2 separate regions of the Homo sapiens genome follow, and region 2 is linked to region 1. Evidence: fine-mapped expression QTL. A gene starts in region 1. The other region holds a variant in brackets. All regions are shown on one strand. Distances are from middle to middle.

Region 1 (5,379 bases):
TTATTGCCGTTTGCAACACAAATGAGGAAACCAAAATCATGGAATCAATGACCTTGACTTGTCCAAAATAAATGTAGAACCAGAAATCAGCTCCTAGGATTTCTCAGAAGGTATTTTCCTTTGAGGTTAAATCAGCACATTATAAACAGTTCCAAATCCCTCTAGTGAAATGGAATTAGACTGGGAACTTCTATCAAGAAAAAAAAAATTTTTAATTCCTCATTTATCCTCCTAAAAAAATCCCTTATGAGAAATGGAGGTGTCCTTTCCACGAGAGCTTCAGATTACCACTAATGAAAAATATACCTTTCTTGGCATTGAATCCTAGTGTGGACTATGGGGAAAAGAAAGAGAGATCAGATTGTTAAGGTGTCCGTATAGAAAGCAGACATAAGAGACTCCATTTTAATCTGTAACCCTACCTCCAACCCTGTGCTCCCTTAGACATGTGCTGTGTCAACTCAGGGTTAAATGGATTAAGGGCTGTGCAAGATGTGCTTTGTTAAACAAATGCTTGAAGGCAGCATGCTCATTAAGAGTCGTCACCACTCCCTAATCTCAAGTACCCAGGGACACAAAACACTGCGGTAGGCCGCAAGGACCTCCGCCTAGGAAAGCCAGGTATTGTCCAAGGTTTCTCCCCATGTGATAGTCTGAAATATGGCCTCGTGGGAAGGGAAAGACCTGACCGTCCCCCAGACCCCCGTAAAGGGTCTGTGCTGAAGAGGATTAGCAAAAGAGGAAGGAACGCCTCTTTGCAGTTGAGACAAGAGGAAGGCATCTGTCTCCTGATCATCCCTGGGCAATGGAATGTCTCGGTGTAAAACCCGATTGTATATTCCATCTACTGAGATAGGGGAAAACCGCCTTAGGGCTGGAGATGGGACATGTGGGCAGCAATACTGCTCTTCAAGGCATTGAGATGTTTATGTGTATACGTATCTAAAGCACACCACTTAATTCTTTACCTTATGATGCAGAGACCTTTGTCCTTCTCTCCACTATTATCCTATGACCCTGCCACATCCCCCTCTCCGAGAAACACCCAATAATGATCAATAAATACTAAGGGAACTCAGAGGCCGGCGGGGATCCTCTGTATGCTGAACGCCGGTTCCCTGGGCCCCCTTTTTTCTTTCTCTATACTTTGTCTGTGTCTCTTTCTTTTCCAAGTCTCTCGTTCCACCTAACGAGAAACACCCACAGGTGTGGAGGGGCGACCCATCCCTTCAGTGGACAGCGCTGCACAACTCAAAATGATACTGTATGGATACACTTAATGACTATAATGATCCTCAGCTTTTAAACACTAATTCCAAAACTCCTAAAATGAACTGTTTGGAACCAATATGATCACTTCAAACTAAATGTTAATTTTACCAAAAGCCCCTAACATCGATACCAAAATATATCAGAGAATTCAAAAGCATTCAATTATGGTCAAACCATCTGGAATAAAGAAGACAGCACTGGCAAGACAAGCCTTGGCATACCTTAGACAGAAGATACATATGGAGATGAAAAACAGGGAGAAAATGAAGGATTAAGATAACCCTGATTTCAACTCCAAGAGGAATCATTTTGTCACAGAAAAACTAAACAAAGTCCCTCTATTTTTAAACTGGGTGACTGAAGTGGAAAGAGAAATGAGAACACATTTGGGGAAATCAGGGATTGAAATCTCAACAGCATTGAAGCTAACTTTCCATAACAAACAATTTCCAAAAATAAGGCTGGCACAAAACTATGCTGGGATTTGTACCAGGCGTGTCTAAAGGCGCTAGTCGCTGTGACTAGAGAGGCTGAGCAGAGAATGAGACCTAGACAGCGGAAAGTTCAGAATGAAAGAAAATCTAGGGTATTTCTCTGGACAACTAATTCACATTTTAGAGAAAAACTGGGACACTCACTCTCCCTCCCAAGTAAAATGATTAACTAAAAATGAATTCCCCGGGTTGCTCTGGGGCAGCAGAGGTCCGCCCTGGGTGCTAATGCTAATCGCCACCCCAGTAGGGATCCACCCTTTGCCAGCAGCCCGCTGGGAACCCAGACAGCGCCCACTCACGGTGGGAGCAGCTAGTGTCTGAAGGCATTCGAAGCAAAGGCAAAATACACGAAGATCTCTCTCTCCGAAGCTAAATGTCTAAATACGCTCTCGAAATCGTAGGACCCATGGGTGGCTGACCTTGAAGTTATTTTCTCAGAGCTCGGCTCTGGGTGCAGGCCCGAGAGCAATTTGCGTTAGAAGTACTAGAGGAGGTGGGGAAAACAGAAGGGGCGAGAGCCGAGGGCCCCTCGATACGAAGTCAGTGACCCCGAAGCCCTACGGAGCGCACCGGAGCGGCTGGGGGGGACGGGAAAAGGGGTCTCTAGGATCCCCGAGCGCTTGGCCTCCACACCCATGGGTCCTTTCCCTGCCCAGGCACAGGATAAACAGTTATCAGCAAAACGTGAGGGGCCAGTTCAGATCTCCGGAGGGCCGCAGGCACCAACTCCCAGTCCCACTGAAGTCACCTCAGCAACAGCGCAGCCATCTTGGGTTCCGGTCTGGACGGAAGTGACGCCAGGCGGCCCCGCCACCCGAGGGCGGAGGCGCGCCGGCTGGGGGTCGGGGTTGGGGGTGTCATGTGACGAGAGTCTCTTTAAAAGGCTCTGGAGCTTCTCCGCTCAGCTCTGCCTAGCTGGTTTGCTGGTTGTTTTCTGGTTTTTTAGTCTCCTCCTCCGCCTCCTGCAGCCGACTTCTACCGGAATTTGCCAGGATTTCGGCAGAAACGCCGCTGGCTCAAAATCTGCAGTCTACGTTCCACCTGCGTACATATTCATTTTGTATCGCACTCCCAAACAGCAAACGGCGGACTTGTTTAGATTCTTCCTTAAGGACTTCGCAGTCTGTTGCGTTCCCCCTGCCTCCCAGGTCGGCCTAAAAACGTGGTGGTTGGCCGGTTGAGACCCCGAAGAGAAAAGATACTTTGGGTTCCCTCCCTTTCTAATACGAAGCTTTAACCAGACAGATACATAAATTGTGACCTAAGTTGGGGAGTGTGTAGAGGGGCCTCGAGAAGACCTTGCGGACCACCATTCCCGAAAACGAGGAGCCTCATCTAACCACCTCGATTAGACCCCACAATTCCTGGGTTTGAGCTGCCACATGGACCAGGCGCCCACTAGCCGAGGACAATGCTCCCTTGTTCGTTGTTTCAGCGCTATGTGGGTGACACCCACAGCTAGAAGAACCCGGAGTGAGGGGAAGAACACGCTTTGATTTATATATGTGTATATATATATATACAGTTTTAGGGAACCCAAGCACAGGAATCAACTGCCGAGCACTCAAGACTGAAGAAAGAAGAAGAGCAAATGATAAAGGAAGGGAACAGAGCACAAAAGTTCTTGACTCTTGTGGGGAGTAGGGTGGAGAGGAGTAAAAGGGACAGGCTAGAGCAACTCCTATTTCTACAAAAAAAATACTCAATTATATTAATATTCAGATCTTATGTATATTTAGCATCCCTGCACTTCAGGATTTAAATAGCACAAATTCACTTATTTCTGCATCAGATGAATAATACTACTTTGCATTTCTATAATGCTTGACAAAGCACATTCGTACACTTTAGGATTGAAAGAGGCTCTCTAATCCAATCTACTATCTATGCAGGGATCTCCTCTGCAACACCCATAACAGCTGATCTTCAAGACTCTACCCCCCCATATTCAATGATGGGTACCTCAAACAACAAGTTTTATTTAATGAACAACTTATTCGTTAGTTATTATATTTAAATACAGTTTTGTGCTATCGAAATTCCAGTCATTGACTTGGCTCTCTGGAGCTTCACGTTAACAAACCCAAGGAATGCCTTTTTCACTCAGATCTTTTTTGGTTTTTCTTTTTCTTTTTCTTTTTCTTTTATTTTGAGACGTAGTCTCACTCTGTCGCCCAGGTTGGAGTGCAGTGGCGCTATCTCAGCTCACTGCAGCCTCTGCCTCCCAGGTTCAAGCGATTCTCCTGCCTCAGCCTCCCCCCAAGTAGCTGGGATTACAGGCCTGCACCACCATGCCCGGCTAATTTTCTGTATTTTTAGTAGAGATGGAATTTCACCATGTTGGCTAGGCTGGTCTAGAACTCCTGACCTCAAGTGATCCACCGGCCTCGGCCTCCCAAAGTCCTGGGATTATAGGTGCGAGCTACCACTCCCAGCCCACTCAGCTCTTTAAATATTAATAATTTCATTTAGCATGTAGTTATGGACTTTTTGTCAGTCCGTGAAAAGTTCTGTAGGGGATTCAAAGATACAGATGTTTGTACTGTCCCCAAGAAGGTTATAGCCTTAGCAGGATCAATAAAGACATGCAACAAAGAAAGTAGCAACAACCCATTGAAGAGGGTGTTGATAAAAGGGGTGGTTAGATAAAGAGGAAATGATTGCTTACAGTTGGGAGGTGGAGTTAGGTGGAAATTTTGGAGGGGAGAGTTTTGGGGGTTTTTTTTTTTTTGTACTTTGAATTGCTGTTTTATAGAAATGTTGACTACAACATCCTGTAAACATTTGTCAATGATGATGGTTTTGCCTATGGACTTCATAAGCAATCCCATATTTAGAATTCCACAACCCAAATCTAATACTAATGACCATACCCACCAGGGCTGTGGTCTAATGAGATGCCAGGAAGGTACCAGGACACTGTCCTTCACCTGGGTGAGCCTGCAGTGGTCTCATAGCAGGAATAACAATGACCACCCCACTTACATTAACTTCTAGAGGTCAGGCACGGTGACTCACACCTGTAATCCCAGTACTTAGGGAAGCCAAGGCAGAAGGATCACTTGAGTATAGGAGTTCAAGATCAACCTGAGCAACACAGTGAGATCCTCATCTCTACAAAAAATTGAAAAATTAGCTGGGTATGGTGGTGGCTGCCTGTGGCTCAGCTAATCTGGAGGCTGAAGTGGGAGGATCGCTTGAGCCTGGGAGGTTGAGGCTGCAGTGAGCTATCATTGCACCACTGCACTACAGCCTGGGCCACAGAGCAAGACCTTATCTCTGAAAAAAAAAAAAAAAAAATTTTAAACTAGCCCAGCATGCTGGCATGCGCCTGTAGTTCCCAGCTACTTGGAAAGCTGAGGTAGGACAATTGCTTGAGCCTCAGAGGTCAAGGCTGCAGTGAGCCATGATCATGCCACTGCATTCCAGCCTGGGCAACAGAGCGAGACTGCCTCAACAAACAAAAAAACCTCAGCTCTGGTTATGTAGACATCCCCATGGCTAACTCCACCCCAACACCTTCAGGTTCTCATGATGTACCAAATTGAATTCACCTTCTTTCACCTGTCATTTAAGGCCTTTCACAAACTGGTTTCGACTTTCCTGTCCAGTC
Region 2 (5,379 bases), 100 kb before region 1:
TCACGCCTGCAGTCCCAGCACTTTGGGAGACCGAGGTGGGCAGATCACCTGAGGTCAGGAGTTCAAGACCAGCCTGGCCAACATGGTGAAACCCCGTTTCTACTAAAAATATAAAAAATTAACCAGGCATGGTGGCGGGCACCTGTAATCCCAGCTACTCCGGAGGCTGAGGCAGGAGAATCATTTGAACCCGGGAAGTGGAGGTTGCAGTGAGTCGAGATTGTGTCATTGCACTCCAGCCTGGGCAACAAGAGCAAAACTCTGTCTCGGAAAAAAAAAAAAATCATGCTAATTATTTAAATTCTTAATTTTTCTTTACATAGAATGACAAATAAGAGCAAATAAAAAGCCCCATCATAGGAAGGACTATGGAAGAAAGGAAAAAGCTTTATAGTTCACTACTCTTCACAGCACTTTTCTTGCTGCTTTTTTCAGAAGAGGTTGCATTTTCACTTTGCACTAGACCCGACAATTTATGTAGCTGATGCTGGTACCAGAAGGTAAGATCAGTTTCCTGGGGTACATTTTTGGTATAGTGGTTAAGGCTTTTTTCTCAAACTTCCCAGTGGGAGTTTAAGTCTTGGTTTTGTCCTTCATTTTTCTTCCTTCCCACTATTAAGCTCCTGTTGCTGTGGCCATCAAGATTTTCTATTGTTCTGGGGCTCAAGCAGACAAGGAACCCAAGAACACCCAGGCCACACCTTCCACCCAGGAGTCCAGCTGGGCCCTATGCCCAAATGATTGCTTTTTCTCTTTGCCCACTCCATCAAGGGTGACAGCTTCTTCCTAGTCAATTCTTTGCCATGGTCTCACTCCCCGCCTTCCTCAATCCAGAATCTGAGCAGGAAACGAATCTGGTCAAAGCACGTGGTTGGATTTTCGTGACCCAGTGCTTCCAAAAGGCCAAACCTCACCTCTGCTCCACCTGCCCCCACTCTTGGATCCAGCAGCCTCACACTTCCCAGGCCTCTGCCCTGACATCTGCCTCCCTAGAAGGATGAAGAGCAGTAGCGCCTGGAATTCCAACCATCTGCCACAGTCTTGCATGGCACAGGTGAGTTTTGTGGGAGATGGGGTGGGGTGGAGAGTAGACAACGTTTCTGGCATTTTCACAAATGGCCACTCTGATGCTGGCCTCTCGCTCTGTCCTGCCAGCAAAGGGTCAGACTAGGTGGTGGCCTGGGAGCAAATGGGGCATGAGCAATCAATGCTTCCTACCTATCTGGGCCCAGTGTAAAAGTGGGCAGTTAGAGGAGATGTTGTTGACTTTAGATTCATCTCCTTCCTCATTAGCATAGTTGGTGAGTATTCCCTTCTGTCCTGACAGATCTGGATTTGATCCCCCTGCCATTTAACTAATTTGTTACCACTTCACTTTTGTTTATACATTTTATTTCCTGGCTTACAATTAACCAATTCGTTACCATATAGATATATGGTTTTTATTTTACAAAAAAATCTAAACGGATTATGAGTTTACAAGCTCAGTAAAGTATTGGCTGGCTCTGGACTTCCCTAATAAGCCACATTAAACACCTGGTGACAGCTGCCAATGCAAAGGTCAAGGGCTGCTAATACCGGACTGCCTAGAACTCCATGATTTTAACTACTTTCAGGATTTCAAAGTGGGGGAAAGTTTTATTAATTACTAATACTATGACTGTGCTAATCCACCCATTCTAGATTTAGAATATTCCTGAGAGACTGCATGTTTCCGTGGCAAAATTAAACGTACTCAGGAGGCCAAGGCAGGAGGATCGCTTGACCCCAGGAGTTTGAGAGCAGACTGGGTAGCATAGCATAACATCTCTTAAAAAAAGAAAAAGAAGAAGAAATAGAGAAAAAATTAAACACAAGTATACATTAGTGATTCTCAACATGGGTGGGCCTAGTCCCCTTAAGGAGCATTTCAGAATTCCTCAGTGGACATCAGCCTTCGCGCAGCCTCCCTACCCATCAGGTGCTGATGAGGTTAGCAACCAGATGTTTGGCCTCCCCATTTGCTTCCCTTGAGAATTGTGGCTAGCGATATTAGGAGCTCACTACCATTCTTAATTTACCCCTTTGAGTAAACGATCAACATTTTTCTTTTAAACATGTATTTCAGGCCGGGTGCAGTGGCTCATGCCTGTAATCCCAGCACTTTGGGAGGCTGAGGCAGGCAGATCACTTGAGGTCAGGAGTTCCAGACCAGCTTGGCCAACATGGTGAAACCCCATCTCCACTAAAAATACAAAAATTAGCCAGGCATGGTGGTGCATGCCTGTAATCCCAGCTACTTGGGAGGCTGAGGCAGGAAAATCACTTGAACCCGGGAGGCAGAGGTTGCAGTTAGCTGAGATC[A/G]TGCCACTGCACCCCAGCCTGGGTGACAGAGCAAGACTCTGCCTCAAAAAATAAACAAATAAATAAATAAATATATATATATATATATGTATGTATGTATGTATGTATTTCAGAAAGAAGAAATGATACTGGACTACAGAAGCATTACTGAGATGCTGTGGTCATCAGGCCAAGGGTCGTGGATGGGAATCTGTGGGGAGGCATTCCCCCATGCCCACAGTCCCCTCACTCTTTAGCCAGAGTATTGTTAGGTTTGGTTCTTGACCAAGGTCTCAGGCTCAACTCGTGTGTGTGCTTCAATATGGGTTGGTTCCTTCCTCCCTTCCTTCCTTCCTACCTCCCTCCCTCCCTTCTCTTTCTTTCTGTATTGAGGCCAGAGTCTCACTCATTGCCCAGGCTGGAGTGCAATGGTGTGATCTCGGCTCACTGCAACCTGCGCCTCCCGGGTTCAAGCGATTCTTCTGCCTGAGCCTCCAGAGTAGCTGGGATTACAGGCACCCACCACCACGCCCGGCTAATTTTGTATTTTAGTAGAGACAGGGTTTCACCATGTTGGTCAGGTTGGTCTCAAACTCCTGACCTCAGCTGATTCACTCGCCTCAGCCTCCCAAAGTGCTGGGATTACAGGTGTGAGTCACAGTGCCCAGCCTATTGATCTGTCTTTGAATTCACTAATCTTGTCTCCTGCTGTGTCCAATTTGCTGTTAAACCCATTCAGAGGGTTCTGTTCTAGAAGTTTTTGTCTCTATTCCAATTCTCTGTTGAAATTCTTCTCATCTACTTTCCATCTTTTCCTCTATTTTTTAAAAATAAAATTGTGATTATTTTAAAGTTCTTGCCTGTGAACTTAAACAATTGGCTTATATTTGTTTCTGCTTCTACTGTTTTCTTTTTTCTCTTGACCATTGGTCACATTTTCCTTTCTCTTCACATGTCTCCTAATTTTTATTGTATGCTGAACATTATGTAAAAAATAACTAGAGGCCAGGCTGGTGGCTCACACCTGTAATCCCAGCACTTTGGGAGGCCGAGGTGGGCAGATCATTTAAGGTCAGAAGTTCAAGACCAGCCTGGCCAACATGGTGAAACATGGTGAAACTTCATCTCTACTAAAAGTACAAAAATTAGCTGGGCATGGTGTCTTGTGCCTGTAATCCCAGCTATTCAGGAGGCTGAAGCAGGAGAATCACTTGAACCTCAGAAGTGGAGGTTGCAGTGAGCCAATATCATGCCACTGCACTCCAGCCTGGGCGACAGAGTGAGACTGTCTAAAAAAAAAAAAAAAAAAAAAAAAAAAAAAAAAATATATATATATATATATATATATATATAGAGAGAGAGAGAGAGAGAGAGAGAGAGAGAGAGAGAGAATATACATATATATACACCCAGCCTGGGTGACAGAGTGAGACTCTGTCTCAAAAAAAAAAGCTTTATATATATATATATATATATATATATATATATATATATATATATATAAAGCTTTTTTATATATAAAAAATATATTTTTATATATAATATAAAATTATATATATAAAATATATTTATATACATAAAAGCTTTTTTATATATATATATAAAGCTTTTTTTTTTTTTTGAGACAGAGTCTCGCTCTGTCACCCAGGCTAGAGTGCAGTGGCGCCATCTTGGCTTACTGCAAGCTCCGCCTCCCGGGTTCACGCCATTCTCCTGCCTCAGCCTCCAGAGTAGCTGGGACTACAGGTGCCCACCACCACACCCGGCTAATTTTTTGTATTTTTAGTAGAGACGGGGTTTCACCATGTTAGCCAGGATGGTCTCGATCTCCTGACCTCATGATCCGCCCGCCTCTGCCTTCCAAAGTGCTGGGATTACAGGCGTGAGCCACCACGCCCAGCCAAAAAAGCATATTTTTCTCTTTTTCTTTTCTTTTTTTTTTTTGAGAAGGATTCTCACTCTGTCGCCCAGGCTGGAGTGCAGGGGCACAATCTCGGCTCACTGCAACCTTCGCCTCCCGGGTTCAAATGATTCTCCTGCCTCAAACTCCTGAGTAGCTGGGACTACAAGCATGAGCCACCACGCCCAGCTAACTTTTGTATTTTTTAGTAGAGATGGGGTTTCACCGCGTTGGCCAGCCTGGTCTCGAACTCCTGACCTCAAGTGATCCACTCGCCTTGGCCTCCCAAAGTGCTGGGATTACAAGGGTGAGCCACCATGCCCGGCCAAAATACATGTTTTTCTTGAGTTGTCTTTGTCTCATGGATTTGTAGGAGTAGTTTTGATATTATGTTGTGAATATCTTCACCCCAGTCAGTCCTCTTCTATTTCTCCCAAAAGGTATTGTATACTTTCACTTTTTTTCCCTCTTATCACTCACGGGCACACAAAATTGATTCAATCATCTCCCTCAGTTTATTGCACTTTATTTATTTATGTATTATTTATTTATTTTGAGATGGAGTCTCACTCTGTCACTCAAGCTGGAGTGCAAGGGCATGATCTTGGTTCACTGCAACCTCTGCTTCCCAGGTTCAAGCGATTCTCCTGCCTCGGCCTCCTGAGTAGTGGGGACTACAGGCATGCGCCGTCATGCCTGGCTAATTTTTGTATTTTTAGTAGAGACAGGATTTTTCCACGTTGGCCAGGCTGGTCTCAAACTCCTGACCTCAAGAGATCCACCCTTCTCAGCCTCCCAAAGTGCTGGGATTACAGGCATGAGCCACCCCGCCCAGCCCTATTGCTCATTATAATCATTGATTGGGTAAGATCCCTGTTCTGTTATATTGTCTCATTATTTTCTCCTCATCTCCCATTCTTACACCAATTCCTCTCCCCTACAATGCACCCAGTTTTGTATATTTAGTCTGTTTTTTAAATATACATATTATTTCTAAAAATATTAGGCCAGGCACGGTGGCTCATGCCTGTAATCCCAGCACTTTGGGAGGCCCAGGCAGGTGGATCACCTGAGGTCAGGAGTTCAAGACCAGCTTGGCCAACATCGTGAAACCCCGTCTCTACAAAAATACAAAAAAATTAGCCAGGCATGAAGGC

Evidence for each region. PIP is the estimated chance that this variant, and not a neighbour inherited with it, causes the effect.
Region 2: its variant is fine-mapped to the expression of SDHC in whole blood (INTERVAL, PIP 0.97).

Annotation. Positions count from the first base shown.
Region 1 is chr1:161,311,561-161,316,939 of GRCh38, reverse strand. It overlaps SDHC (succinate dehydrogenase complex subunit C), which reads right to left and starts at 2,559. Exons shown (of 6, transcript NM_003001.5): 1 at 2,515-2,559. The coding sequence starts at 2,534. RefSeq lists enhancers at 1-693, 2,220-2,983 and silencers at 2,509-2,578, 2,609-2,668.
Region 2 is chr1:161,415,344-161,420,722 of GRCh38, reverse strand. It overlaps the pseudogene COMMD6P1. Among named protein-coding and RNA genes, the nearest start is that of TRE-TTC4-2, 4.1 kb to the left of the region's middle. The variant A/G (reference allele first, on the strand shown) is at 2,344.